7 linked regions of the Homo sapiens genome follow. The protein of the gene in region 4 purifies or fractionates together with the protein of the main gene of each other region. This does not show direct contact. Each region holds a gene or a part of one and is shown on either strand. Other genes may lie near its edges.

The links.
Region 1: the proteins of GLOD4 (region 4) and SDHA fractionate together in Homo sapiens (co-fractionation; one large-scale study listed by BioGRID). This does not show direct contact.
Region 2: the proteins of GLOD4 (region 4) and SERPINB5 fractionate together in Homo sapiens (co-fractionation; one large-scale study listed by BioGRID). This does not show direct contact.
Region 3: the proteins of GLOD4 (region 4) and PPIL3 fractionate together in Homo sapiens (co-fractionation; one large-scale study listed by BioGRID). This does not show direct contact.
Region 5: the proteins of GLOD4 (region 4) and FKBP1B fractionate together in Homo sapiens (co-fractionation; one large-scale study listed by BioGRID). This does not show direct contact.
Region 6: the proteins of GLOD4 (region 4) and SNX3 fractionate together in Homo sapiens (co-fractionation; one large-scale study listed by BioGRID). This does not show direct contact.
Region 7: the proteins of GLOD4 (region 4) and TKT fractionate together in Homo sapiens (co-fractionation; one large-scale study listed by BioGRID). This does not show direct contact.

Annotation. Positions count from the first base shown.
Region 1 is NC_000005.10:251,908-256,319, forward strand, and holds part of SDHA (succinate dehydrogenase [ubiquinone] flavoprotein subunit, mitochondrial), read left to right. Parts: intron 1-2,485; coding exon 2,486-2,599; intron 2,600-4,412. UniProt on the Homo sapiens protein: Flavoprotein (FP) subunit of succinate dehydrogenase (SDH) that is involved in complex II of the mitochondrial electron transport chain and is responsible for transferring electrons from succinate to ubiquinone (coenzyme Q).
Region 2 is NC_000018.10:63,500,935-63,504,238, forward strand, and holds part of SERPINB5 (serpin B5), read left to right. Parts: intron 1-2,395; coding exon 2,396-2,788; 3' UTR 2,789-3,304. UniProt on the Homo sapiens protein: Tumor suppressor. It blocks the growth, invasion, and metastatic properties of mammary tumors.
Region 3 is NC_000002.12:200,881,588-200,886,077, reverse strand, and holds part of PPIL3 (peptidyl-prolyl cis-trans isomerase-like 3), read left to right. Parts: intron 1-305; coding exon 306-380; intron 381-710; coding exon of another isoform or gene 711-816; intron 817-3,642; coding exon 3,643-3,736; intron 3,737-4,490. UniProt on the Homo sapiens protein: PPIases accelerate the folding of proteins. It catalyzes the cis-trans isomerization of proline imidic peptide bonds in oligopeptides. May be involved in pre-mRNA splicing.
Region 4 is NC_000017.11:768,323-772,812, forward strand, and holds part of GLOD4 (glyoxalase domain-containing protein 4), read right to left. Parts: intron 3,140-4,490; coding exon 3,003-3,139; intron 2,186-3,002; coding exon 2,099-2,185; intron 1,836-2,098; coding exon 1,722-1,835; intron 1,634-1,721; coding exon 1,547-1,633; intron 1-1,546.
Region 5 is NC_000002.12:24,055,777-24,060,266, forward strand, and holds part of FKBP1B (peptidyl-prolyl cis-trans isomerase FKBP1B), read left to right. Parts: intron 1-4,490. UniProt on the Homo sapiens protein: Has the potential to contribute to the immunosuppressive and toxic effects of FK506 and rapamycin. PPIases accelerate the folding of proteins. It catalyzes the cis-trans isomerization of proline imidic peptide bonds in oligopeptides.
Region 6 is NC_000006.12:108,219,251-108,223,740, forward strand, and holds part of SNX3 (sorting nexin-3), read right to left. Parts: intron 3,796-4,490; coding exon 3,700-3,795; intron 1-3,699. UniProt on the Homo sapiens protein: Phosphoinositide-binding protein required for multivesicular body formation. Specifically binds phosphatidylinositol 3-phosphate (PtdIns(P3)).
Region 7 is NC_000003.12:53,224,360-53,228,849, reverse strand, and holds the end of TKT (transketolase), read left to right. Parts: intron 1-490; coding exon 491-574; intron 575-700; coding exon 701-794; intron 795-1,971; coding exon 1,972-2,094; intron 2,095-2,918; coding exon 2,919-3,094; 3' UTR 3,095-4,138; downstream 4,139-4,490. UniProt on the Homo sapiens protein: Catalyzes the transfer of a two-carbon ketol group from a ketose donor to an aldose acceptor, via a covalent intermediate with the cofactor thiamine pyrophosphate.

The sequences.
Region 1 (4,412 bases), on a different chromosome or scaffold from region 4:
TAAGCCACCGTTTCAAACCTGCCCTGTGGAGGAAATGCCAGTTTATTAAATAACGAGTAAGCCACCGTTTCAAGCCTGCCCTGTGGAGGAAATGCCAGTTTATTAAATAACGAGTAAGCCACCGTTTCAGACCTGCCCTGTGGTGGAAATGCCAGTTTATTAAATAACGAGTAAGCCACTGTTTCAAACCTGCCCTGTGGAGGAAATGCCAGTTTATTAACGAGTAAGTCACTGTTTCAAACCTGTCCTGTGGAGGAAATGCCAGTTTATTAACGAATAAGCCACCGTTTCAAACCTGCCCTGTGAAGGAAATGCCAGTTTATTAAATAAGGAGTAAGCCACCGTTTCAAGCCTGCCCTGTGGAGGAAATGCCCGTTTATTAAATAACGAGTAAGCCACCGTTTCAAGCCTGCCCTGTGGAGGAAATGCCCGTTTATTAAATAAGGAGTAAGCCACCATTTCAAGCCTGCCCTGTGGAGGAAATGCCAGTTTATTAAATAACGAGTAAGCCACCGTTTCAAGCCTGCCCTGTGGAGGAAATGCCAGTTTATTAAATAACGAGTAAGCCACCATTTCAAACCTGCCCTGTGGAGGAAATGCCAGTTTATTAACGAGTAAGTCACCGTTTCAAACCTGCCCTGTGGAGGAAATGCCAGTTTAGTAACGAGTAAGTCACCGTTTTAAGCCTGTCCTGTGGAGGAAATGCCAGTTTATTAACGAGTAAGCCACCGTTTCAAACCTGCCCTGTGGAGGAAGTGCCAGTTTATTAAATAATGAGTAAGTCACCGTTTCAAGCCTGCCCTGTGGAGGAAATGCCAGTTTATTAAATAACGAGTAAGTCACCGTTTCATACCTGCCCTGTGGAGGAAATGCCAGTTTATTAACGAGTAAGCCACCGTTTCAGACCTGCCCTGTGGAGGAAAATGCCAGTTTATTAACAAGTAAGTCACTGTTTCAGACCTGCCCTGTGGATGAAATGCCAGTTTATTAATGAGTAAGTCACCATTTCAGACCTGCGCTGTGGAGGAAATGCCAGTTTATTAAATAAGGAGTAAGCCACCATTTCAGACCTGTCCTGTGGTTTGGAAAAGGTATTATAGAGCCTGCCCTGTGGTCACTTGTTCTTCAGATGAACTGATTTTTGTGCAGAGCGCACGTGTTGGATTCTGCCTGGTAAGAGTTTTTCCCATATGATAGCAAAAAACGACGGAAAGGGAAGCTTGGGATGCAAATGCAAGTTCAGGATAAACCACATCAGCAAAAGGACAAAGGCTCCACAAGGCAGGCGCACAGGCTGGTTCAGGACCGTGTGTAGGCGGCTGGTGGCAGCCTTTCCAGTCAGCTGAACATGGTGAATGGGAAAATCATTTTTATTCACCATGAAATTTTACTGATTTACCCTCCACTAGAATATGCTGATGGCTGTGATCACTGCTCAGAACTTGCTCTTGTCTCCTTGTATGTATTAAGAGTTTCCTGCAAAGTATATGAATCCGTGTTTGCCAGAATACAGAATAATAGTAAATTTATTATTTTTATTTTTATTTTTTTGAGAAGGAATCTCACTGTCCCCCAGGCTGGAGTGCAGTGGCGTGATCTCAGCTCACTGCAACCTCTGCCTCCCGGGTTCAAGTGATTCTCCTGCCTCAGCCTCCCAAGCAGCTGGGATTACAGACACACTGCCACCATGCCTAATTTTGTATTTTCAGTAGAGATGGGGTTTCACCATATTGGCCGGGCTGGTCTCGAACTCCTGACCTCAAGTGAACCACCCACCTCGGCCTCCCAAAGTGCTAGGGTTACAGGCATGAGCCACTGTGCCTGGCCAGTGCATAAATTTAGTTGGTCACAGTCAGTTTTAATTAGAATAGAAGCCAGGTGCAGTGCCTCACACCTGTAATCCCAGCATTTGGGAGGCTGAGGCAGGCCAATGACTTGAGCCCCAGAGTTGTAGACCAGCCTGGGCAACATGGCGAAACGTGTCTCTACAAAAACATAAAAAATGAGCCAGGTGTGGTGGTAGCACAGGAGGCTGAGGCAGGAGGATTGATTGAGCCTGGGAAGTCAAGGCTCCGGCAAGCTGTGATCACACCACTGCACTCCAGCCCAGGTGACATAGCCAGACCCTGTCTCAAAAAAAAAATTTTTTTTTAATAAAAACAGGCTGAAAGAAAAGATTGAGGTAGTCTCCCAGCACATGGAGCAAAAAGACAAAGTATTTGATAAACTCTTAGGTACATAAAGGATGCTTAAGGGAACATGCGGACATGGATTACTGTGGACTCACTGCTGGCTGCACACCCCCTGGCCAGCCATGCGGCCTCCGTGGGTTCTGAACATGTTGATGGTGCCAACCTCCTGGGCTGAAGTGGAAATGGAATGAGTTCTAGGGCATCTGTCTCTTAGATCATGTTAATGTCTGCTGTGTTTTTTCTGTATTGCTCTGTTAGAGTAATAAGAAACGTGATGGTGTTTCTGGCCTCAGGTGCGGATTGATGAGTACGATTACTCCAAGCCCATCCAGGGGCAACAGAAGAAGCCCTTTGAGGAGCACTGGAGGAAGCACACCCTGTCCTATGTGGACGTTGGCACTGGGAAGGTCAGTGTGGAGCTCGTTCTCACCACAGCCCAGCACCCACACGGCCCCGCCCAGGCCTGCGGGCTGGCCTTGCTGATGGTGAACGGGGAAGAGCAGGCCAGATTTAAATCAACTCCCGACAGATTCGAGGCACCGCTGAAAAAGGCACTCCGACAGCAGTCGGGCTTCGGGCTGGAAACAGAATCCAGTTCCTGCAGGTGGTTCAGAGGAGCCTTAAGGAAGGGTTGCTCCGTGGTGTGCGCCAGATGGACGTCACTGGGCAGGAGCAAGTGTCCAAGGCCTGGTGGTAGGGGAGGAGATGATGATTGTGGACCTAGCGAGAAAGCATCTGTGGGGTGGGGACACACAGCCATTACCAGAAACCAGTCCCACGTTAAGGGAGCCCAGAAGAGACACCTCCCCTCTCCTCCCACGGGCTGGGCCAACTGGAAGCGTCTGCAGGGGAGCTGAGGGGATGTGGTGCAGCCTTTAGCATCCCCTGGGCACTGAGCAAGCAGAGAAGGGCAGAAATGGAGGTGGGGTTGGGGTGAGCAGTGTCCTGGGAACAGCCAGCCGAGGGTGTGGTAGGGGGTCGCAGCCTTTTTCCACACACGGTGAGCAGCGTCCTGGGAACAGCCAGCCGAGGGTGTGGTAGGGGGGTCGCAGCCTTGTTCCACACAAGCACAGTTCACCTGTGTGGCATTTCCGCTGGGCATTAAGATTCAGAAATAATGAAGATAGAAAGCTTTTACCCTTAAACTTTTCATAGCTTGTAAGAGTCGTATAATCACTTAGCTGTGTCTGTGGAAGTTACCTTTGGACTCTCACTATCATCTAGTGTGTCTGTGATTCAGGCAGTAGGTCATTTTCAGGACTTCTCATGAAGGCCATTTCTTGATAGTGTATAGAAATCACACTTCACTCGCTTAGCACAAGTCTATTTTTAATGTTTCCGGGTTCGGGTTTTTTGGTTTTTTTTTGTTTTTCTGAGATAGAGTCTCATCTCTGTTGCCCAGGCTGATATGTGTTGGCTTGATCTCGTCTCACTGCAGCCTCAACCTCCCCCAGGCTCAGGTGATCCTCCCACCTCAGCTTCCTGGGCACATGGCACCATGCCTGGCTAATTTTTATATGTTTTGTAGAGATGGGGTTTCTCCACGTTGCCCAGGCTAGTCTTGAACTCCTGCGCTCAAGTGATCCACCTGTCTTGGCCTCCCAACAGGCATGAACCAACACCCCCAGCCAGTTTTAGTGATTTTTCAAGAAATACATACTCATTTTAGAAAGTACAAAGAGATTGAAATAAGAGCTCACTAACCAGAGACGACCCATTATGGTTTAAATTTCTTTGTATATGTGCCTACCTTTTCCTGTGTGTGCATATTTAATACACAGCTTGAGTATTCCTTCTCTGAAATCCTTGGGACCAGAAGCGTTGTGGATTTCAGGCTTGTTCAGACTTTGGAATATTTGCATTATACTTACTGTCTGAGCATCCCTAATCGGAAGATCTGACTCCATAGCACATTTCTTTTGAATGTCATGCTGGTGCTCAGAAAGTTTCAGATTTTAGAGAATTTCAGATTTTTGGATTAGGGATGTTCAACCTATATAAATATTTACTTTGAAGTAGAAAAACTGGAAGTAGATGGTTTAAACATAAAGTGTCTTGGTATAGACAAGGGTTCTCCCACTTTACATGATGGGAGCATTTTTGTAAAGCACTGAGAATCTTAAAGTTCACATGCCATAAATCTACTTTTATAGTTAAAATTTTTCAAAAGGAACACAAGAGATGGCTTTTTGTACATTTTTGTGCTTAACTTACCACTGA
Region 2 (3,304 bases), on a different chromosome or scaffold from region 4:
TCAGCCATTATCCAGCTGTCTTGGATTTTACCTTTCGTTCTTAAAACGCCCTCCAATAAACATCAATTATTTTCTTCTTCTTCTTCTTTTTTTATTTCAATAATTTATTTTTCTTTTTTTTAATTATACATTAAGTTTTAGGGTACATGTGCACAATGTGCAGGTTTGTTACATGTATATACATGTGCCATGTTGGTGTGCTGCACCCATTAAGTTGTCATTTATATTAGGTATATCTCCCAATGCTATCCCTCCCCCCTCCCCCCACCCCACAACAGGCCCTGGTGTGTGGTGTTCCCCTTCCTGTTTCCAGGTGTTCTCATGGTTCAATTCCCACCTATGAGTGAGAACATGCAGTGTTTGGTTTGTTGTCCTTGTGATAGTTTGCTGATAATGATGGTTTCCAGCTTCATCCGTGTCCCTACAAAGGACACGAACTCATCATTTTTTATGGCTGCATAGTATTCCATGGTGTATATGGGCCACGTTTTCTTAATCCAGTCTATCATTATTGGACATTTGGGTTGGTTCCAAGTCTTTGCTATTGTGAATAGTGTTCCAATAAGCATACGTGTGCATGTGTCTTTATAGCAGCATGATTTATAATCCTTTGAGTATACACCCACTAATGGGATGGCTGGGTTAAATGGTATTTCTAGTTCTAGATCCTTGAGGAACTGCCACACTGACTTCCACAGTGGTTGAACTTGTTTACGGTCCCACCAACAGTGTAAAAGTGTTCCTATTTCTCCATATCCTTTCCAGCACCTCTTGTTTCCTGACTTTTTAATGATCGCCATTCTAACTGGTGTGAGATGGTATCTCATTGTGGTTTTGATTTGCATTTCTCTGATGGCCAGTGATGATGAGCATTTTTTCATGTGTCTGTTGGCTGCATAAATGTCTTCTTTTGAGAAGTGTCTGTTCACATCCTTTGCCCACTTGTTGATGGGGTTGTTTGATTTTTTCTTGTAAATTTGTTTGAGTTCTTTGTAGATTCTGGATATTAGCCCTTTGTCAGATGAGTAGATTGCAAAAATTTTCTCCCATTCTGTAGGTTGCCTGTTCACTCTGATGGTAGTTTCTTTTGCTGTGCAGAAGCTCTTTAGTTTAATTAGATCCCATTTGTCAATTTTGGCTTTCAATTATTTTCTTCTTAAAGTATAGAACTAAAGAAAATGACCTTTTGAGTTTTGGAAATGATTTTTTTTTTTTTTTTGAGATGGAGTCTTGCTCTGTCCCCCAGGCTGGAGTGCAGTGGCATGATCTCAGCTCACTGCAAGCTCCGCCTCCTGGGTTCATGCCATTCTCCTTCCTCAGCCTCCCGAGTAGCTGGGACTACAGGTGCCTGCCACGACGCTTGGCTAATTTTTTGTATTTTTAGTAGAGACGGGCTTTCACTGTGTTAGCCAGGATGGTCTCGATCTCCTGACCTCGTGATCCACCCACCTCGGCTTCCCAAAGTGCTGGGATTGCAGGCGTGAGCCACTGCGCCCAGCCGCATCTCTCTCATTTTTTAAAACAGCTAAAATGGATGCATTCACTACCTATGACCCTAGGGCATGGCTCAGAGTTAGTTCAAATTCCCATTAAAAAAAAAAAGTAACTTTAGCTTTAATTTAATTTTCTAAATCTGATGCCATTCCTAGTACATGAATATTCTGGATTTCCTCGTAGAGAAATTACAATAAGCATTCAAGAAATATGTGTAAAAAGCTTTCTAATTTTATATTCATTTCACTATTGTGTATGCAACATCATGATCCAGGCATTTGTTTCTATAAATCTACTCTCTAACTTAAGGTTGGGTGCGGTGGCTCACACCTTTAATCCCAGCACTTTGGGAGGCTGAGGCTGGCACATCACTTGAAGCCAGGAGTTTGAGACCAGCTTGGCCAACATGATGAAACCCTGTCTCTACTACAAATACAAAAGAAAATTTAGCTGGGCATGGTGGAGTGTGCCTGTAATCCCAGCTACTCGAGAGGCTGAGGCACGAGAATTGCTTGAACCCAGGAGGCAGAGGTTGCAATGAGCGACGATCACACTATTACACTCCAGCCCGGGTGACAGAACAAGATTGTCTAAAAAAAACCCAAACAAACAAACAAACAAACAAAAAACTACTCTCTAACTTAAAATGAAAAAACAGAACCCTGTCCTCATAAATTTCAGTGCACATGGAACACTGTTATAGGCTGGGGAGGAGGAGGACACAGCTGGGTGGCTGCTGGGTCTCCTGAGTCACATACCAAAAACTTCTGGGCCATCTTTGATGTTCCACCCAGACTGCTTTGAAGCTGGGCTTATCATAACACCTTATGTTTTCAATTGAGCCAGGTCTTTTACAGTTGGAAATAAATAAAAATAATTTCTTTTCATTTTTGTCCTTCAGATTGAAAAACAACTCAACTCAGAGTCACTGTCACAGTGGACTAATCCCAGCACCATGGCCAATGCCAAGGTCAAACTCTCCATTCCAAAATTTAAGGTGGAAAAGATGATTGATCCCAAGGCTTGTCTGGAAAATCTAGGGCTGAAACATATCTTCAGTGAAGACACATCTGATTTCTCTGGAATGTCAGAGACCAAGGGAGTGGCCCTATCAAATGTTATCCACAAAGTGTGCTTAGAAATAACTGAAGATGGTGGGGATTCCATAGAGGTGCCAGGAGCACGGATCCTGCAGCACAAGGATGAATTGAATGCTGACCATCCCTTTATTTACATCATCAGGCACAACAAAACTCGAAACATTATTTTCTTTGGCAAATTCTGTTCTCCTTAAGTGGCATAGCCCATGTTAAGTCCTCCCTGACTTTTCTGTGGATGCCGATTTCTGTAAACTCTGCATCCAGAGATTCATTTTCTAGATACAATAAATTGCTAATGTTGCTGGATCAGGAAGCCGCCAGTACTTGTCATATGTAGCCTTCACACAGATAGACCTTTTTTTTTTTTCCAATTCTATCTTTTGTTTCCTTTTTTCCCATAAGACAATGACATACGCTTTTAATGAAAAGGAATCACGTTAGAGGAAAAATATTTATTCATTATTTGTCAAATTGTCCGGGGTAGTTGGCAGAAATACAGTCTTCCACAAAGAAAATTCCTATAAGGAAGATTTGGAAGCTCTTCTTCCCAGCACTATGCTTTCCTTCTTTGGGATAGAGAATGTTCCAGACATTCTCGCTTCCCTGAAAGACTGAAGAAAGTGTAGTGCATGGGACCCACGAAACTGCCCTGGCTCCAGTGAAACTTGGGCACATGCTCAGGCTACTATAGGTCCAGAAGTCCTTATGTT
Region 3 (4,490 bases), on a different chromosome or scaffold from region 4:
TGATAAAAAATTCAAAGTTAAAATAATTCTTTCCATCAAAATATTTACTTCCAAATTTTTGTCATGGATACTACTTAACCCTAACATTTATATTCTGGAGTTTTTTCTCTACTGTTGGGATCAATTTTGAGAAAAAAGTACAACTTAACCTCTAAGAGCTGCTTTGTGGATGGGTCATCTCTGAAGCAGTATTTCTGTCTGTTTTTATTCAGATTATCATCTTGAATATCCACACAGGGAAATAAACAATGCATAAAGTCACCTAAATAAATTTCATTTGTTCTCACATTTTCTCTCCTTTTTAGTCTGTGACACTGCATACAGATGTAGGTGATATTAAAATTGAAGTCTTCTGTGAGAGGACACCCAAAACATGTGAGGTAAGTACTATTATTTACATATTCAACATCAGTTAATACAACAAGATAAGCACTTTGGAATTGAATAATCTAACCTAAATAACAACAACAAAACTTTCTGTAAAACCATTGTTAGGGAAAACTAGCCATCCTAACTTCTGGCCTGATTTCCACTTATTTGTCCAATGTCAAAGGTGGATCAAAGAGAACGTAGATAATTTTTCGGTAACGATAGAGTAGCCAGTATCTTTTTCTTTTGAACTAATTTTCTTCAGGAAACGTAATCATTAGGACATTATATTACTTTTTTCTTTCTTTTTTTTTATTTATTTATTATTATTTTTTTTTGAGATGGAGTCTCGCTGTGTCCCCCAGGCTGGAGTACAATGGCGCGATCTCGGCTCACTGCAACCTCCGCCTCCTGGGTTCAAGCAAGTCTTCTGCCTCAGCCTCCCGAGTAAGTGGGATTACAGGCGTGCGCCACCATGCCTGGCTAATTTTTGTATTTTTAGTAGAGACAGGGTTTCACCATGTTGGTCAGGCTGGTCTCAAACTTCTAACCTCAGGTGATCCATGCACCTCAGCCTCCCAAAGTGCTGGGATTACAAGCATGAGCCACTGCACCTGGCCTTTTTTTTTTTTTTTTTTTTCTCAAGACGGAGTCTTGCTCTGTCACCCAGGCTGGAGTGCAGTGGCATGATCTTGGCTCACTGCAACCTTCGCCTCTGGGGTTCAAACGATTCTCCTGCCTCAGCCTCCCAAGTACCTGGGATTACAGGCACCCACCACCATGCCCAGCTAATTTTTATATTTTTTTAGTAGAGACGGGGTTTCACCATGTTGACCAGGCTGGTCTCAAACTTCTGACCTCAGGTAACCCGCCTGCCTCAGCCTCCCAAAGTGTTGGGATTATAGGCATGAGCCTCCATGCCCGGCAGGATATTATATTAAAGAATTGTTGTATACTTTTTTTTTTTTTGAGACAGGGTCTTGCTCTGTCGCTCAGACTGGAGTGCAGTGGTGCAATCACGGCTCATTGCAGCCTCAACCTCCTGGGCTCAAGCAATCCTCCCACCTTGGCCTCCCAAGTAGATAGGACTACAGGCGTGTGCCACCATGCCAGGCTAATTTTTTTTAAATTTTTATGGAGACGAGATCTCACTATGTTGCCCAACTTGGTCTCGAACTCCTGGTCTCCAGCCATCGTCCCATCTCAGCTTCCTGAAGTATTGGAATTATAGGCGTGAGCCACCATGCCTGGCCTGTTCTATACATTATTTCGCCTGTTTATTTTTATTTATTTATTTATTTATTTTGAGACAGAGTTTTGCTCTTGTTGCCCAGGCTGGAGTGCAGTGGCCCAATCTTGGGTCACTGCAACCTCCGCCACCCAGGTCCAAGGGATTCTCCTGCCTCAGCCTCCCAAGTAGCTGGGACTATAGGCGCCAGCCACCATGCCCAGCTAATTTTGTATTTTTAGTAGAGATGGGGTTTCACCATGTTGATCAGGCTGGTCTCAAACTCCTGACCTCAGGTGATCCACCCGTCTTGGCTGCCCAAAGTGCTGCCCAAAGCCACTGCACCCGGCCTGTGTCACCTGTTTAAATGACAAGGATGGAAGGAAGAAGAGTCACCTGTATATATTCATTTATTCAGCAATTATTTATGGCTGGGCATGGTGGCTCACATCTATAATTCCAGCACTTTGGGAGGCTAAGGTGAGCTCAGAAGTTCTAGGCTTACCTAGGCAATATAGTGAGACCCCCATCTCTACAAAACAATACAAAAATTAGCCAGATGTTGTGGTGTGACCCTGTTGTCCCAGCTACAAGGGAGGCCAAGGTGGGAGAATTGCTTGAGCCTAGGAGGTCAAGACTGTAGTGAGCTCTGATCACACTGCTGCACTCCAGCCTAGGTGACAGAGCAAGACCCTGTCTCAAAACGAAACAAGAAACCCATTATTCGTGAAAGGCTATCTTGCCCCAGAGTCTGGAGATACAGTGATGAGCAACAGACATTCCTTACCCTCATGGAGCCAATATTTTAGTTGTAAAAATAAGCAGGGCAGGAAAATTAAGTAATTATATTTTTAAGAAATTATTTTCATTTATTTATTTTTTTTTTAAAGATAGAGATGAGGTCTTACTATGTTGCCCAGGCTGGTCTTGAACTCCTGGACTCAAGTGATCTTCCTGCCTCCCAAAGTGCTGAGATTACAGGTGTGAGCTGCTGTGCCTGGCCTAAAATTAAGTAATTCTAAAAGATGATAATGCCTTGAAAAAAATTAAGTGTTGAGATAGAGAATAATGGGAAAGGAAGAAGGTGAGGGCAGGTGTAGCCAATAAACTAATACTTAAATTAAATGCAAAGGTATGAGGGCATCTCCATGGAAAGAGGTATAGAAAGAATATTCCAGGTATTCAGATTCAGAAAAGGTTGTGAAATAAAATTTTAAAAAATTCCAAGACCAGGCACGGTGGCTCACACCTGTAATTCCAGCACTTCGGGTGGCTGAGGCAGGAGAATCATTTGAGCTCAGGAGTTCAAGACCAGCCTGGGCAACATAGGGAGACACTGTCTCTACAAAAAAAAAAAAAAAAAAAAAAGAACATTCCAGATATAGAAATCTCAGGTACAGAGTACCCCAGGTAAGAAAAGCTGCCCCTTTTGGATTAATTGTCAGAATGCTGATGGAGTTTAGGTAGTAAGCAACAAGAAAGCAGTTCTTAGTATATGTGATGAGGAGATGAGCCAGGTACTGCAGGGCTTGTTAGGCCCTGCTGAAGATTTTCTTTTTGTTTTTGGTTGTTTTTTTTTTTTTTTGAGACGGAGTCTCTGTCGCCCGGGCTGGAGTGCAGTGGTGCGATCTCGGCTCACTGCAACCTCCGCCTCCCAAGTTCACGCCATTCTCCTCCCTCAGCCTCCAGAGTAGTTGGAGGCGCCTGCCACCACACCCAGCTAATTTTTTGTATTTTTAGTAGAGATGGGGTTTCACCATAGCCAGGATGGTCTCGATCTTCTGACCTCGTGATCCACCCACCTCGGCCTCCCAAAGTGCTGGGATTACCGGCGTTAGCCACCATGCCCGGCGAAAGATTTTGTATTTTATTTCAAGAGGAGAAGGAAGCTATTGAAGTGTTGTAGGCAGGGAAATGACATCCAAAGTAATGACAACAGTCATAGTTTAAATATGCTGCTATCACGTTTTCAGTAAATATGATTGGTTTTTTGTCTTAACTGGGTTTCTGCTGCATCATTTCTCAATCATTTTTACTCCCTTCAGAATTTCTTGGCTCTTTGTGCCAGTAATTACTACAATGGCTGTATATTTCATAGGAATATCAAGGGTTTCATGGTTCAAACAGGAGATCCAACAGGTAAGTTATTCCATTAACCAAGATCTAAGGAACTGAATGTATAGTATGAAGAAGTGGGTAAAAGAAGAGGAATTAAATACGTGGAGTTTTTGTTTTGTTTTGTTTTGTTTAATAAGTTCTGTTCTACAAGTACAGAACATGCAGGTTTGTTACATAGGTATATGTGTGCCATGGTGGTTTGCTGCACCTATCAGCCTGTCCTCTAGGTTTTAAGCCCAGCATGCATTAGCTATTCGTCCTAATGCTCTCCCTCCCCTTGCCCCCACCCACAACTAGCCCTGCTGTGTGTTGTTCCCCTCCTTGTGTCCATGTGATCTCATTGTTCAACTCCCACTTATGAGTGAGAATATGCGGTGTTTGGTTTTCTGTTCCTGTGTTAGTTTGCTGAGAATGATGGCTTCCAGCCATCCATGTCCCTGCAAAGGACATGATCTCATCCTTTTTATGGCTGCATAGTATTACATGGTGCAATTTTAAAGCAGAAATTATTAGCACCTACCCCTAAAATGTGAACAATATTGTGCTCACTTTGGCAGCACATATACTAAAATTTGAACAATACAGAGAAGATTAGTGTGGCCCCTGCACAAGGATGAGACACAAATTTGTGAAGCTTTTCATACTTAAATATATATGAACAATATTTATAAGGAGGGTTATTCTTTTTTGTTTTTTGTAGGTCTGTTTTAATCTTCAGGTCTGTGAAGTTAAATTTGGGGAATTAGGAAAGGCCATATCAAATTTTATCTATATT
Region 4 (4,490 bases):
AAGAGGACGTGAGAGAGAGAAACAGCGCGCACTCAGATTTTTAGAAGAAGAAATCTGGAGAGGACGTAAGAGAGAGAAACAGCGCGCGCTCAGATTTTTAGAAGAAATCTGGAGAGGACATAAGAGGGAGAAACAGCGCGCACTCAGATTTTTAGAAGAAATCTGGAGAGGACGTGAGAGAGAGAAACAGCGCGCACTCAGATTTTTAGAAGAAATCTGGAGAGGACGTGAGAGAGAGAAACAGCGCGCACTCAGATTTTTAGAAGAAGAAGTCTGGAGAGGACGTGAGAGAGAGAAACAGCGCGCACTCAGATTTTTAGAAGAAGAAATCTGGAGAGGACGTGAGAGGGAGAAACAGCGCGCACTCAGATTTTTAGAGGAAGAAATCTGGAGAGGACGTGAGAGAGAGAAACAGCGCGCACTCAGATTTTTAGAAGAAATCTGGAGAGGATGTGAGAGAGAGAAACAGCGCGCACTCAGATTTTTAGAAGAAGAAATCTGGAGAGGACGTGAGAGAGAGAAACAGCGCGCACTCAGATTTTTAGAAGAAATCTGGAGAGGATGTGAGAGAGAGAAACAGCGCGCACTCAGATTTTTAGAAGAAGAAATCTGGAGAGGATGTGAGAGAGAGAAACAGTGCGCACTCAGATTTTTAGAAGGAGAAATCTGGAGAGGAGATATGGGGTCAGTAAAAGGTTTTTAAAGGATGGGAGCTTTCAGCGCCTGTTTGCACGCTGGCGAGAATAACTCACTGGAAAGAAGAGACTGATGCTGCAGAATGGAGAAGAGATGATCAAAGGAGCTGCAGAGCTGAGGGGATCAGATGGAGGCATCTCCCTGGGGAGAGCTGAGGGGAACGGATGGAGGCATCTCCATGGGGAGAGCTGAGGGGGTCAGATGGAGGCATCTCCACGGGGAGAGCTGAGGGGATGGGATGGAGGCATCTCCATGGGGAGAGCTGAGGGGAACGGATGGAGGCATCTCCATGGCAAGAGCTGAGGGGATGGGATGGAGGCATCTCCATGCGGAGAGCTGAGGGGAACGGATGGAGGCATCTCCATGGGGAGAGCTGAGGGGGTCGGATGGAGGCATCTCCCTGGCGAGAGCTGAGGGGAACGGATAGAGGCATCTCCATGGGGAGAGCTGAGGGGGTCAGATGGAGGCATCTCCATGCAGAGAGCTGAGGGGGTCGGATGGAGGCATCTCCATGGGGAGAGCTGAGGGGGTCGGATGGAGGCATCTCCATGGGGAGAGCTGAGGGGGTCGGATAGAGGCATCTCCATGTGGAGAGCAGAATAAGCACAGATCCACCAGCAGTGGTTCCAGGGCAGCCTGAGGTTGTGGTAAGGCACAAATGCTAAGTCTAGACAAGCAGTCTACACAGGTGGCAGTGAAGACATCGGTCCTTGGCTGAGGTCAACCCAACAGCGAAAGGACGTGGTTCTGACATTAAGAACCTGGACCCTGTTGCTTAGTCTCCTCCCACACACACTTAATGCCATCCCTCTCAGGCCCATGGTGACATAAATGTAGAAATGGGACTCACATCATCCAACAATTTGCTTCCCTCTGGATCCATCTTAGAAAGTTCTCGAAATGCTTCATCCCCGACAAAGCAAATTTCATGTCCGTCCTACACCAATAAAGAGAAAAGACACCTGCCAAAGACATCCTTGAAGAAACCCCTGGTCCAGCCTGCCCCCTGCCTGAGAAATACTTACAGGGTCGGCCAGAATGACCACCTGTACTGTTGCTTTCCCTGGGGTGTCCAGGCTCACCAGGGGAGTCAGAATCTTCTGGTTCTCCCTTTTCATCAAGTCTTCTAAGTCTGGCAACTTGAGGAAAACAGAGGCAACGTGAGCCAGGGGTCACACACTACTCAGGACACGGCCCTCGTCAGTCCTAGAGGAGTATCAGATACCATAAAGAACCAAGGCGCCATTTGTTTGAATTTATTATCTCAGCTGCTCTTGAAACAACTGCTGAACTTGATACTAAAGCCACAATCAAAAAGGACCTCAAGAAGGGAAGGACAAAGTTCTTAGCTGGGTTGAACTAGCTAGTCAGAAAGCTCAAACGATCTGGTATCAAGCGTTACCTCTTTCTGGGGGCAAGAGAAGGCAATTCTTCCAAAAGCTGCTGCATGGTCCACCCCACCCTTGACGCCCTGTAGCTCCAGCTTACACTGAAATAGGAAAGGGGGTTATTTTTTGGAACAGGTTATACATTCATTACACGTATGTGGTAGAAAAATTCAAATATTATATACTAAAGGAATAAAGTAAAAACTGAGTCTCTATCCTACTCTCACCCCAGAGACAACTAGTCCACACTTTCCTGTGTATCCTTCTAGAAGCACTGCACGCATCTATGTTTTTTTTTTTACACAAATGGTGGTATAATTTACAAATTATTCTGTTCCTTGTTTTTCTCCACTTAATGTTACCATGTCAATACATAAAGATTTGCCTCAATCTTTTTGCTAGCGACATAGTAATCCATTCCATGAATGAGCCGTAAATTACTGAAATATGTCTCTAATCTATAGGACACTGAAATTCTTACACATTGTGATTACAGACAATGCTGCAGCAGATAACCTTGCACACACTTCTTTGTGCCGATGTATGTTGAGCACATCTGTAAAATAATTCCTAGGAGTAGAATTGCAGGGTCAAAGTGCAAGGACTAAATCGTGCTCAAACGCTGGGTTATTAGAAAAAGAAGATGAAAAAGATCTTGCATTAAATCCATTCAATCTCTTGGATTAAGCAATTCCACTTCTGAAGAGATATATCCCCAAATATAAACAAGGTAATATCTGGGTGGTAAGGTTATCACTTATTTTCTTCTGTTTATCTATATAAATATTGAATCACTGTGAAGAAACTATGGGAACAACCTTCATGTTAACTTCATTTATAAAGGTTATAAGCCATTTATAAGCTTCGTTTACAAGCCAAATTCAAAGTAACAGGTTATTCTTCTCCAAGATTGCTCACCTGGTTATCAGCATAGCCCAGCAAAGCCCTTTGCTTTTCTTCATCTTTTTCATAAATTTTCATTCCCAGTAGATTACACCAGTAGTTCAAGGACTTTTGAAGATCAGACACTGCTAGAGTTACTTTTAATACAGGATCTGTTGGGTAATAAAGCAGGAATAGACAGATCAATTTAATAGAATAAAATAGAAAGACCAAAACATGCGCATGTATACTTACAAATTCAGTTTATGATAAGAAAGGGATTTTAAGCCAGTATGAAGCTGGGTGCAGCGGCCCATGCCTGTAATGCCAGCACTTTGGGAGACTGAGGTAGGAGGATTGCGTGAGCCTAGGAATTCAAGACCAATGCAGGTAAAACACTGAGACCTTGCCTGTATGAAAACTTTAAAAAAATTGGCTGGGTGTGGTGGCTGATGCCTGTAATCCCAGCACTTTGGGAGGCCAAGGCAAGTGGATTACCTGAGGTCAGGAGTTTGAGACCAGCCTGGCCAACATGGCAAAACCCTGTCTCTACTAAAAATAAAAAATAAAAAAAATTAGCTGGGCGTGGTGGCGCACGCCTGTAATCCCAGCTACTCGGGAGGCTGAGACAGGAGAATTGCTTGAACCTGGGAGGCGGAGGTTGCAGTGAGCCGAGATGGCGCCGTTGCACTCTAGCCTGGGAGACAAGAGCAAAACTCTGTCTCAAAAAAAAAAAAAAAAAAAAAAAAGATTAGACAGGCGTGGTGGCTCATGTGTGTATTCCCAGCCACTTCAGAGATGGAAGCAGGAGGATCGCTTGAGCCCGGGAGGTTGAGGCTGCAGTGAGCCAAGACTGCACTACTGCACTCCAGCCTGGGTGACAGTGAGACCCTATCTCGAAAAAAAAAAAAAAAAAAAAAACAAAGACAGTATGAAAAGCCTCATTATTCAATGGACGGCGCTAAGAAGACTGGCTAATCATTTGGTAAGAAAAACTTACATCTTCGAAATAAATGACAAAATACATTCCTGATGGGTTAAAAAAATAAGTTTAGAGAATGAAACCATGAAAATACTAGATACAGATGATTATTTATACAATTTTGGAGTAGAGGAAGATTTTTCTTTAAACCTGACACCAAAGATAGAAAAACTATGAAGAAAAAACTTCTGCTACATAAATTACACAAAATGGAAAACTCCTAGACAACAACCAAGAAAAGGAATTACAATCAAAACTAGAGTATACAACACAGTAGGGGGAACAACTGCAATATATTGGACAAAAAGTCCTTAATATGTAAATCACCTGTAAATATCAATAGGAAAAGAATGAACATGCTAGAAAAATAGGCAAAAGGCACAAAGCAATAATCCACAAAACAAGGAATTAGAATGGTCAAATAACATACGAAAAAATATTCAGGCCGGGCGCGGTGGCTCACGCCTGTAATCCCAGCACTTTGGGAGGCTGAGGTGGCAGGATCATGAGGTCAGGAGATAGAGACCATCCTGGCTAACACG
Region 5 (4,490 bases), on a different chromosome or scaffold from region 4:
GCAGGCATCTCTTAGTGTACATGTGTACAGACATATGTGCATGTTTCTGTTGGGTATATACCTGGAAGTGGGGTACCTCCTGGGCTCAGCGTTAGCAGTACTGTCTGACAGCTTTCCAAAGTCGTTGTGCCAGTTTCCACTCTAGGCAGCTGTGTAGGAGACTGCCAGTTACCCTGTGTCCTCCCCAACACTTGTTATTGTCAGGTTTTGGTTTTGTTTTGTTTTTTCTTTTTTTGAGACAGAGTCTATGTTGCCCAGGCTGGAGAGAAATGGCATGATCTTGGCTCACTGCAACCTCTGCCTCCTGGGTTCAAGCGATTCTCCTGCCTTAGCCTCCCGAGTAGCTGGGATTACAGGCGCCCGCCACCATGCCTGGCTAATTTTTGTGTTTCTAGTAGAGACGGTGTTTCACCATATTGGCCAGGCTGATCTCAAACTCCTGACCTCAGGTGATCTGCCTGCCTCGGCCTCTCAAAGTGCTGGGATTACAGGAATGAGCCACCACACCAGGCTTTGTTTTGGTTTTGGCCTACTCTGGTGAGCGTTCAGTACCATTTCATTGTGGGTTTTTTTGTTTTTTTTTTTTGAGACAAGGTCTCACTCTGTTGCCAAGGCTGGAGTGCAGTGGTGCGATCTTGGCTCACTGCAACCCCGCCTCCTGGGTTCAAGCGATTCTTGTGCCTCAACCTCCCAAGTAGCTGGGATTACAGGTGCGCACCACCACACCCAGCTAATTTTTGTATTTTTTGTAGAGATGGGATTTCACCATGTTGGCCAGGCTGGTCACTGTGGTTTTGATTTGTGTTTCCCTGATGATGAATGAAGTTGAGCACCTTTTCATGTGCCTACTGGCCATTTGGATATCCTCTTTAGACTGCTCTAATTTTGTCCATTTTAGAAAATTAGGTTGTCTTTTTCTTTTTCTTTTTTTGAGACAGAGTTTCACTCTTGTTGCTCAGGCTGGAGTGCAATGGCGCAATCTTCACTCCCTGCAACCTACACTTCCCGGGTTCAAGTGATTCTCCTGCCTCAGCCTCCTGAGTAGCTGGGATTACAGGTGTGTGCCACCGTGCCCGGCTAATTTTGAGGTTTTTAGTAGAGACAGGGTTTCGCCATGTTGGCCAGGCTGGTCTCAAACTCCTGACCTCAGGTGATCCACCTGCCTCGGCCTCCCAGAGTACTGGGATTACAGGTGTAAGCCATGGTGCCCGGCCGGTTGTCTTTTTCTTGTTGATTTATAGGAGTTTTGTATATGTTTTGGATATGAGTCTTTTGTTGGTTATATCTATCCCAAACATCTTCTCCCACACTATGGCTTGCCTTTTTACTCTCTTAATAGTATATTTTGAACAGAAGTTCTTTTTTTATAGTTTATATTTTCTTCTTTTCTTTCTTTTTAAAATTTTTTTCTTTCTTTTTTATTTTTGAGATAGGATCTCACTCTGTTACCCAGGCTGGAGTTCAGTGGCTCTAGTCTTCAGGGATCATGGCTCACTGCAGCCTTGACCTCCTGGGTTCAAGGACTCCTCCCATGTCAGCCTCCCAAGTAGCTGGGAGTACAGGAACATGCTACCATGCCTGGCTAATTTTTTTTTGGTTTTTTTTTGTGTGTGTGTGATGGAGTTTTGCTATCGTTGCCCAGGCTGGAGTGCAATGGCACGATTTCAGCTCACCACAACCTCTGCCTCCCAGGTTCAAGCAATTCTCCTGCCTCAGTCTTCCGAGTAGCTGGGATTTCAGGCATGCGCCACCACGCCTGGACAATTTTGTATTTTTAGTAGAGACTGGGTTTCTCCATGTTGGTCAGGCTGGTCTCGAACTCCCTACCTCAGGTGATCTGCTCGCCTCGGCCTCCCAAAGTGCTGGGATTACAGGCGTGAGCCACCGGGCCCGGCCACCTGGCTAATTTTTAGTTTTTCTGTAGAGAGGAAGGTCTCCCTATGTTGCCCAGGATGGTCTCAAACTCCTGGGCTCAAGTGATCCTCCTACCTTGGCCTCCCAAAGTGCTAGTATTACAGGTGTGAGCCACTGTACCTGGCCTGAACAGAAGTTCCTAATTTTGATGAAGTCTGACTTATCAATCTTTCCCTTTATGGTTAGTGCTTTCTGTGTTCAGTTTAAGAAATCTTTGTCTGTCAGGCCAGGTGCGGTGGCTCCTGCCTATAATCCCAGCACTTTGGGAGGCCAAGGCAGGTGGATCACCTGAGGTCAGGAGTTCGAGACCAGCCTTGCCAACATGGTGAAACCCTGTCTCTACTAAAAATACAAAAATTAGCCAGGCATGGTGGTGCATGCCTGTAATCCCAGCTACTCGGGAGGCTGAGACAGGAGAATTACTTGAACAACCCAGGAGGCGGAGGTTGCAGTGAGCTGAGATTGAGCCGCTGCACTCCAGCCTGGGTGACAGAGATGAGACTCTGTCTCAGGAAAAAAAAAAAAAAAATTGTCTCTAGGTCATGAAGATATCCTTCTATTTGTTATCTTGTAGAAGCTTTATTATTCTATCTTTCATATTTAGGTTTATGATTCATCTGGAATTGATTTTTTTGTGTGTGGATTTGGTAGGGGTTAAAGTTCATTTTTTCCCCATATGAATATACTGTTGACTCAACAACCTTAATGCAAGAAAAAAAAACCTTTATTTGCTGCATTGCAGTGGTATCTTTGTCCAATCAAATCACCATGTAAGTGGGTCTGTTTCTAGACTGCATGGTTTTGGCTTAACTTGTAGCAATAGATAAATGAAGTTATTTATCCAAAGTAGATTAAGTCACATGAAACCTGAAGAAACTAAGGAATGAGAAAGGAAAGTCGGTATATAAATGGAGTGTGTGAATGTGTGCATGTGTGTTTGCATATCTGTGTGCATATTTGTACAAGTATGTATCTGTGTGAATGTATGTAGATCTGTGTATGTAAATATTTTCTTAGCATCTATTTGGCCACCAGGGCTTTTCTCCTGAGTGTGAGTGCATAAGTGCATGTGAGCATGCACAAGTATCTTTGTGTATTTGAATATCTTAGCAACCTTAGCAAATGCATGCGATTGTATTTGATCTTGTTAGCATCCATCTGCATGTACCTCTGTGTAGCCAGAAGGGTTTTCTTCTTTGCCTCAGTTAGTACCCAGGGCAAAAGCTTAATGTATTCTACTCAGAAAGTAGTTAAATAAGACTGTTTCTCTAATATATATTTTAGTTGTAGGAATTAGGAAGTAGCATCATAGATGCTCCTACACTAAGCTGGCCCTGCTTCCTATGTTAAATATGACACATCTGAGGCCCTGGGAGAGGAAGTGATTTGCCCAGTCTCACACAATGAGTTAGAGCCAGAGTGAAGTCAAAACCCAGTCTCTGGATGTACAAGCAAGGTCTTTTTCTAGTCCCAAATGGCCTTTTGTGGTGGTCCAGGGACTGCCGGGAGCAGTCGTGGAACTGCATCATTTACAGAAGGTCTGATCTTTGAGTCAGAGTCACAGAAGAATTGAGAATAGCTGTTGGGCCTTGGGCTGCTGGACTGAGATGACATGTGGACATCAGGATGACAAGGCTTCTGAAGCAGAGGCTGGGGGAACCAGAACTGCTGGACCAGCACCTGGGGGGGGGTTCTGGTTTCAAACAGCCCTCTTAGTACAGAGTCTGGAGGCCACCTCTGACCAGCTAGGTCACCTTACACTGTTCCCTACAGTAGGGGATAATGTAACCTTTGGGTTTTCCCTTTTGGGGGAAACTTAGGAAACCTTAGGAACCTTATGCGAGGACTCAACCTGAGGCTGGAATAGCTGGGAAAACAGAACTTTAGGTGGAGGAAGTGGCATAAAAAAGTTGAAAAGTCTGGCTGGGCATGATAGCTCACACCTGTAATCCCAGCACTTTGGGAGGCTGAGGTGGGCAGATCACCTGAGGTCAGGAGTTCGAGACCAGCCTGGCCAACATAGCAAAACCCCATCTCTACTAAAAATATAAAAAAATTAGCAGGCATAGTGGCAGGTACCTGTAGTCCCAGCTACTCAGGAAGCTGAGGCAGGAGAATCCCTTGAACCCGGGAGGCGGAGGTTGCAGTGAACCGAGATCACACCACTGCACTCCAGCCTGGGCAACAGAGGGAGACTCCGACTCAAAAAAAAAAAAAAAAAAAAAAAAGTTGAAAAGTGCAGAGGAATTTGAGAAAGGTATGACCTGAAAAGGACACAGAGGGAAGGGAAGGAAGGGGAGAACAGAGAGGGTTATAAGCAGGCCAGAGCCGGATTGTGAAGTGCCTGTATGCAAGGTAGGCATTTGGATTCTGCTCTGGGGAGCTATTGAAGTATTTTGAGCAGGGGAGTAATAGAATCAGATTTGTGTTTAAAGAAAAAAAAAAATCAGTCTGGATGCCAAGTGGACAATGAAATGGAGGCGAGTAAAAGAGGATCAAAAAGACCAGTTAGGAGGTTGTTCCTGTGTACAGGTGAGATAAGCTGGTGACTTGGTCGTGGTAATAGAAACAAAGAA
Region 6 (4,490 bases), on a different chromosome or scaffold from region 4:
TTTATTAAACATTTCCAGTGTGCCACATGGTATGTCAAGCAAAGCCCAAAGCCTATGTATCAAGACACTTCTCAGCTAGGTGTGGTGGCTCATGCCTGTAATCCCAGCACTTTGGGAGGCCAAGGCAGGAGGATTACTTGAGGCCAGGAATTCAAGACCAGCCTGGGCAACATAGTGAAGCCTCATCCTTACAAAAAATTTTTTAAAATTAGCTGGACATGGTGGCTCATGCCTGTAGTCCCAGCTACTTGGGAGGCTGAGGCAGGAAAATCACTTGAGACCAGGAGTTGGAGGATATTATAGTATGCTATGATCACGCCACCGCATTTCAGCCTGGGCAACAGAGCAAGGCTCTGTCAATCAATCAATCAATCAATCTCCCAACCATCTGTAATTTGTAATATAGTGAGATATAAATCTTTATTTCCTAATAGACAAATATTTCAACTCCATTTGCTGAATTCCTTTCCCACTGAATGACAATGCTATTTTTGTTATGAACTAAATTCCCTATAAATACATGGGTCAAACTCTAAACTCTATTATATTCCACTAATCTATTTGCCCAACCTAAAGCAATATACACTGCATAACAGTGTTTCCCATCAGAGATGGACCACTTAAGATAATAACTGTGGTGCCTTAAGATTATAATGGAGGTGAAAAATTCCTATTGCCTAGAGATGTCTTGGTGATCCTGACTCTGTGCAGGCCTAGGCTACTATGTATATTTGTGACTTAATTTTTAAGAAAAAGTTAAAAAAATTTAAATAGAGAAAAGCTTATAGAATAAGAATATAAAGAACATATTTTTGTACATTTGTTCAATGTGTCTGTGTTTTAAGCTAAGTGTTATTACAAGAGTCAAAAAGTTAAAGTAAAAAGTTTAAAAAGTAAGCTAAGGTTAATTTATTATTGAAGAAAAATATTTTATAAATTATAAATTTCAATGTACAGTGTTTATAAAGCCTGCAGTAATAAACAGTAATGTCCTAGGTCTTCTCATTCACTCGCCACATACTAACTGACTCACCCAGAACAACTTTCAATCCTGCAAGCTCCATTTATGGTAAGTGCCCTATACAGGTGTACTATTTAAAAAATCTTCCATGCTTTAAAAAAAAAAAAGTCTTCCACGCTGTATTTTTTACCATATCTTTTATATGTTTAGATGCACAAATGCTTCCCACTATGTTACAACTGCCTGTAGTATTAAGTACAGTAACATGTTGGATAGGCTTGTAGTCTAGGAGTAATAGGCTGTACCATATAGCCTAGGTGTGTAGTAGGCTACACCACCTGGGTTTGTGTGAGTATACTCATATGATGTTTGCACAAACAATGAAATCACCTAAGGATGCATTTCTTAGAATGTATTCTCATCATTAAGTGCCATATGACTACACCACATTGTTTGAATTACTATAGCCTTAAGATATGTTTTGGGTCAGGCACAGTGGCTCACACCTGTAATCCCAGCACTTTGGGAGGCCGAGGAGGGCGGATCACCTGAGGTCAGGAGTTCGAGACCAGCCTGGCCAACATGATGAAACCCCATCTCTACTAAAAATATAAAAAAAATTAGCCGAGTGTGGTGGTGGGTGCCTGTAATCCCAGCTACTCGGGAGGCTGAGGCAGGAGAATTGCTTGAACCCCGGAGATGGAGGTTGCAGTGAGCCGACATGATGCCACTGCACTCCAGAGTGAGGCTCAGTCTCAAAAAAAAAAAAGATGTTTTGATGTCTGGTAGAACAAATAACCTGCTGCCCACTATATACTGAAAATATTTTTTGGTTATTCTTGAGCTTTTTCTGATTCTAAAGCTCATAAATAAATCTGCAACTTTATAAACAGCCCTACTGAAATTTCTACTACAATCTTATGAATTTATAAATAAGTTAGAAGATACTGCTCTACTTCATGCAGGTCTCTGCTAATGTCACCTAGAGTGAGGCCTTCCCTTGTGCTCTATATGAGAGTGGCTCCCCTGGCACTTCCTACTTCCCTTAGTTTAGCTTTGTTTTTTTTTTTAGAGCTTCTCATCATCTGACATCTATATATTTTACTATATTTTTCCTGCCTTCTCTTCAACAACCCCCTCCCCCGCAATTTACCTAATAGGATATAAGCACCATAAAAGAGGGGACCTTAATTTGTTCATAGCTCTACCTGTAACTCCTAGAACACAAAGGACGAGCTAAAATGTTTATAAAATAAAAAAATCTTCAACAGTAAACATTCCAAACGAGGAATACAGTATTACAAGGAATACAGTATTACACTTTTTTTTTTTTTTTTTTTTTTTTTTTTTTTGAGACAGGGCCTGGCTCTGGTGCCCATGCTGGAGTGCAGGGGCAAGACTACAGCTCACTGCAACCTCTGCCTCCTGGACTCAAAGTGATCCTCTTGCCTCAGCCTCCTGAGTGCTGGGACTACAGGTGCATGTCACCATGCCTGGCTAATTTTTGTATTTTTTGTAGCGATGGGGTTTCGCATGTTGCCCACGCTGGTCTCGAACTCCTTGGCTTAAGTGATCCACCCACGTTGGCCTCCTGAAGTGCTGGGATTACAGGCGTAAGCCACTGCACCTGGCCCCTCTTTATTTAGGTCTGGTCTTTTGGTAAAGTTTGAGAGCTTTCTTAACACAGATTTTGTATTTCTAGTTTTATTCATATTTAAAAATTTTGGAAGAGATGGGGCCTCACTATGTTCCCCAGGCTGGTCTTGAACTGCTGGGCTCAAGAGATCCTCCTGACTCGGCCTACCAAAGTACCGAGATTATAGGCATGAGCCACCATGCCCGGCCTTCTTTACATTTTTGTTGGAATGCTATGATCTGCATATTTTGTGCTCATATGCAGCCACTTTTATCTTAGGCTAGAAACAGAAAAAAAAAGAAAACCCTTATTAAACTTGAGAAATGAGTACAGACTAGCCTTCATCTAGTTCAGGACTCCTACCATACCCACACCTTTTTACCTACTTTCTAGTCACAAAATAACTTTTCATCATTCTGAGCACACCACGTCCTTCCATGACTCCTTGCCTCTGATGTCATTCTGAGGCAGGGCTGAAATGAGAGACACCAGAGTGAGACCTTGCTTTAATTTATTTTGATGCCAAAGCTACCAAATTCTATTCTAAGAGAAGATCAGGCATGTAACAGTGTTTTTAAATTGCCGGCAGCAACCCATTAGTGGATCATGGCCATCATTTAAAAACGCTAATCTGAAGAATATCAGCACATATCACACAGAGTGAGGTCATTACTGCTTTATGAAACTTCTGTTACATGAACATATATGTGATGAAAAAAACTTATATGTCACTAAAACAAAATTGGAAATACACTGACATTTATAAAATGTATTGAGGAAGAGAAACTTGGCTTAAGTGTGTGGAGAGGGGAAGATGGAATAGGACGATGAGGGAAAGGAAGGAAGTAATAGCAACAAGGTTCTAAGAAGTGTTATTGAAGTGTGAGTCAGCAAAGACCTCAACTGGGCCAAAGCAGACAAGAGAAAGAGTTCTAAGGAAAATTTACACAGACTCTACCTCTATAAAATGACACTGAACTATTTGAAAAAAAGAAATCATATTTGCTTTTACCCATTTTATTCAATATCATTTTCCTGAGAAATATTAAACATTAAAACTTGGAATGTTTTGCTTTAAAGTTGCATCATAAATCATTCTTACCTTGCTCTCTCTTTCTAATTCACTTCGCAGCCATTCAAAGTCACTGTATCTTCTTCTAACAGTAGATTCTTTCAGCTTGAAAATAGGAAGATTTGTCTGAAACAAAAAAAGTTAGTCCTAAATTGAAGCACATTAAGGAAACTTCAAAAAAATGGGGGGACGGGTATGGCAAAACAAAAGAAATCATGACTTTCTTTTTCTTTTTTTGAGACAGAATCTCCCTTTGTTGCCTAGGCTGGAGTGCAATGGCACGATCTCGGCTCACTGCAAACTCCACCTCCCAGGTTCAAATGATTTTTCCGCCTCAGCCTCCCAAGTAGCTGGGATTACAGGCACCCACCATCATGCCCAGCTAATTTTTGTATTTTTGTAGAGATGGGGTTTTACCATGTTGCCCAGGCTGGTCTTGAACTCCTGACCTCAGGTGATCCGCCCGCCTCGGCCTCCCAAAGTGCTGGGATTACAGGCATGAGCCACGGCACCCGGCCGAAATCATGATGTTTTTAATATGACCTTTTACCCATAACAAAATAAAACTTTGCTAGTTCTTTTTTTTTTTTTTTTTTTTTTTTTTTTGAGACAGAATCTCACTGTCGCCCAGGCAGTGATGTGATCTTGGCTCACTGCAACCTCCACCTCCTAGGGTCAAGTGATTCTCCTGCCTCAGCCTCCCAAGTAGCTGGGATTACAGGCACTCGCCACCAGGCCTGGCTAATTTTCTTGTATTTTTAGTAGAGGCGGGGTTTCACCATGTTGGCCAGGCTGGTGGTCTCAAACTCCTGACCTCAAGT
Region 7 (4,490 bases), on a different chromosome or scaffold from region 4:
AAATACACACCCCACTTACTGCCACGTGGCAGACATTGTCAACTGATTGCCAGTCTGTCTCTGCTGAGAATCCTGGCAGCCCTGGCCGGTCCAGCGGTTGACACCTCTCCACCCTCCTGAGTTGGGTTCTCCAAGACAGGCAAGGATGAGCTGAGCCCTGTGGTCCAGGCCCGGAGCTGCATGCCACAGACCCAGTGCGCGTGGTTCCTGCCCCTCTGCCTGGTGCAGTCTGTGGGAGTAGCCCACCTGCAGCCAGTCTACCTGGTGGAAAGTTGCCTTCGGTCTGAGGCTGCAAGGTGGTGGGCAGTTCTCAGAGTGTTCAAGTGGGGTGCGGGCGGCAGAGGGCAAGCAAGGCCCTTTTCCCTGCTGGAGTAGCCAGGATGCAGTAACTAACGCTCCCATGGGAAGGGATGGCCTCTCTAGAAAGACCTCGTCTCTGAGGTTGGGTGTGCCACATCCTGTATCCTCAGTTTATCTGTTTCGGTCTCAGGGTATCTGCTTCATCCGGACCAGCCGCCCAGAAAATGCCATCATCTATAACAACAATGAGGACTTCCAGGTCGGACAAGCCAAGGTCAGTGCCTCGCATGCCCCAGGAGCCCACAGAGCTGCCTGGACCCTCCCTGCTGTGACTCCCAGCAGTCAGGGCACACCCTGCCCCAGGGCCCTGAGCCTTACTCACCCTCTGTGTCACCCCCAGGTGGTCCTGAAGAGCAAGGATGACCAGGTGACCGTTATCGGGGCTGGGGTGACCCTGCACGAGGCCTTGGCCGCTGCCGAACTGCTGAAGAAAGGTGAGGAGAAGGGGCCTCCAAAGTCATCAACTGAGCGGCCACTGCATGCTAGGTCTTGGGGTTCTTTCTTTCGTTCTTTCTGTTCTTTCTTGAAGAGCTCACAGCTAGAGAGAAAGCATTTCATTTCATTAAATAATGATAGCAATTATAGCCATCCTTTGAGCACTTGTTCTGTCTGGCATGTTGCTAAGTCCTGGGGCTGCAGTGCCCACAGTCCCTACCCTATGACTCTAAAGTCGAGACCCCCCCAGCATGGTGGCCAGATCAGTGGCCTGGAGCCTGCCAGCTGGGCTGGAATCACTCAGCCAGGCACTAGTTAAGGAAGTAAGTTATTCACTGTCACCATGCCTGTTTTCCTATCTGTAAAATGGAGATACTAGCCCCTTGCCCTCAGAGCTCTCCTGAGGGTTACATGCATGTGACTTGGTATTCTATTATTATTACTGCGAGCTCACAGTGTTGGCTAGTGGTTTGTAGGGGAGACAGGCATTGGCCTCTCCTGCAATAGAATCACACAGCAGATGTCATGTTTTAGCACGAAAGAGGGGGCAGGTGTGGCATCTTCCAGAAAGTGGCTTCAGAGTGGGTAGGAATTGATTAGCAGAGAGGAGAGTGAAGGGAGGCCGGAGGAGGGTCAGGCAGGAGCAAGATGGGGCTGGAGGAGCCAGAGGAGTCCATCCCCAGGCAGGGGGAGACCCAGGGGGGTGAGCTTTAAGCAGGGCCTGGCAAGCGTGGGTTTGTCCTTCTGAGAAGGTGCCTCTGCTGCTGGGGCCGCACGTGGGCCTCTGATCACTCTGCGGGCTGCAGCTCCCCAACGTCACCACATCAAGCCTCACCTTCCATCAGGCCAGACACCTGGGGTGTTTTCTCTCGCATTCCCTTTGTCTTCAAGGTTGTGGGAGGATGAGGGAAGGCGCTCAGGGCCTGCACGCTCCGCTCTGGGTTCTTGGATACTGCGGGCAACACAGCTGGACCAGATGCCCCAGTGCAAGGGGTTGGCAAGCATGAGCTCAGCCATGGGAACGAGGTGGCAAGTGGTTCTCCCTGGGACAGGGACAGGCCCGCAGGCTGAGCTCTTAGCTACACGCAGCCCTCAGGATGTCCCACCAGGCCCCCACCAGGGCAGATAGTGGTGCCCAGCCCTCCCCTCAGCCACGCCGTGTGCTCTCCCTCACAGAAAAGATCAACATCCGCGTGCTGGACCCCTTCACCATCAAGCCCCTGGACAGAAAACTCATTCTCGACAGCGCTCGTGCCACCAAGGGCAGGATCCTCACCGTGGAGGACCATTATTATGAAGGTAAGGAGGCCTGGGGCAGGCAGGCTGGGCAAGGGACAGGGCCAGAGAGCCGAGCGTTGGACGTGCCTCTTCTATCTGAGCCCCAGGAGGGCAGCTGTGGCCCAGAACACCCAGAGCTGTCCCTCAGAGCAGCTGGGACGTGGTCTCTTAAAAGGCCTCAGGCTTGGCCTGGGGACCTAGCTAACTCACAGCTGCTGATGAGCTCTGTGGAGCTCCTGCTGCCCAGGAAGCTGGTGAGGATTCCAACCTCGCTGCTAAATGGTGGATGGTGGCGTCCCTGAGGTAGTGTAGGGTGGAAGCTATGGTGCAGCTTGGGAAGCAATGCAGAATTTCTGGTATTTGTGAGTCCTTCACACAGCAGGCTCCCTAAGTACACACCAGCCTCTCTAAGTAGGAGGCCCCAGTGGGAGAGATGGGCTTTGACTCTGGGGTCAAATGTAGATAATTGGACTATGGACAGTGGCTGGCTGGTCACCAACAATGGTGTTTGAAACAAACATTTAGAGGCCATATTTGGGCTTATAAAAATAGTTCTGGGCCGTGCATGGTGGCTCACACCTGCAATCCCAGCACTTTGGGAGGCTGAGGACAGCGGATTTCTTGAGCTCAGGAGTTGGGAGACCAGCCTGGGCAACATGGTGATACCTGTCTGTCTCTTTAAAATAAAAAAAATCAATGAGTTATGTGATGGGCTCATGGCTACAGGTGGAGAAAGGCAGTGCATATGCAGCCTCCTCCATCCTTGACTAAGGCTGACAGAGGGCTGGGCCCACCACTGCTCACCCTGAGGCCTCGTCTTCTGACTCCCCTCCTTTCATTTCTAGGTGGCATTGGTGAGGCTGTGTCCAGTGCAGTAGTGGGCGAGCCTGGCATCACTGTCACCCACCTGGCAGTTAACCGGGTACCAAGAAGTGGGAAGCCGGCTGAGCTGCTGAAGATGTTTGGTATCGACAGGGATGCCATTGCACAAGCTGTGAGGGGCCTCATCACCAAGGCCTAGGGCGGGTATGAAGTGTGGGGCGGGGGTCTATACATTCCTGAGATTCTGGGAAAGGTGCTCAAAGATGTACTGAGAGGAGGGGTAAATATATGTTTTGAGAAAAATGAATTGGCCCTGAAATGTTTTCTTTTTTGATGTGTTTGCAGCCAGTGCAGGTTCTGGGGAAGAAGCGTGGAGGGTGCGCTAGGGAGGCTGGTGTCCTTGGTCCTGGGCCAGGACCTGGGTGTCCCAAGTCCCCTTGGAATCACCTGCAACTGCCCTCAACCTCCAGAACTATCGCTGCCTCCCATTCATCACCAGGTGACATTTGACTGCAACCTGCCTTCTAGCTGAGAGGCTGAGACCTACATCCCTCATTGTGACCTCAGTCCACCTGGCCCTGAGCGGGCTGGGGAACTGCCTCAGTCTGGAAGCTGACCAGGCACTCTCAGGGCCGCCCCACCTCCCCCAAGTCCCCACAGCCTTGCAGTCAGGTCTCCTGGGATAGGGAGGTTCACTTGCTTGTTGTCCCTCGTCCTTGTCATATCCTTTTAACTAGGCATCTCAGAGAAGCAGAGACAGGGCAGCCTTCGTCCTGGGGGAAAAGGGACCCTCAGGATGGCATGAGAGGTCCTCAATCCCAAGTGTGGAACTGTCCCCCTCAACTTGTTAAAATGCAGATTTCTGGGTCTTGCCAATGGGGCCTGGGACTCCATGTGACAACTGGCCCAGGAGCTTCTGATGTCACACAGAATTCTGCAGTCCCAAGCTCCAGCCCCGACCTGCTCTGCTGTTCCTAGGTGACTGCCCTCACACTGCTGACCACAGTGGATTTCTCCCCCTGCTGCTCGGGCTCAGCTGGGGTCAGCCCTGCTTATAAGGTCAACTGTGCAAAACCTTATACTGGCCAAGAACAAACTAGTGCTGGGGGAGGAGGGCTGGGTGCCCCGGCCACTGGTGGAGTCCCCAGGAAATCCTCAGAGCTGTTGCGAGGATGAGACACATTTGTGGACACGTCCACCTGTCCTCCTGACCGTCTGGAGAGAATAAACCTGTCAAAGCCAAGGTCAGGCAATTGCCCCCCACTTAGCTACCCAGCCAGGTCTAGCAGTGCCAGAGGCTGTGCCTGTGTTTGCCTCAACACCAATTCCAGAGGGACCAGGCATGGGGTGATGTGGTTTGGTCCCAGGGGGGTGCCCTGGGCTGATGCCTGTTCACCAGTGTGTTGAGGGCAGACCTGGGATTGGAACCTGGGTCTCTGTGAGTCTAGAGATCCCACCTTCTGTACCCTACTGCCCCTAGGGCCCTCAAAAGAGGAATCATGCAGTAGGCTCCCAGGAGGGCCCTGGTCCCATAGGATGATGGGAACAGCCTGGGGCTCAGGTCCTGTGCGTCTCCAGAGCCCACAGGCCCCTGC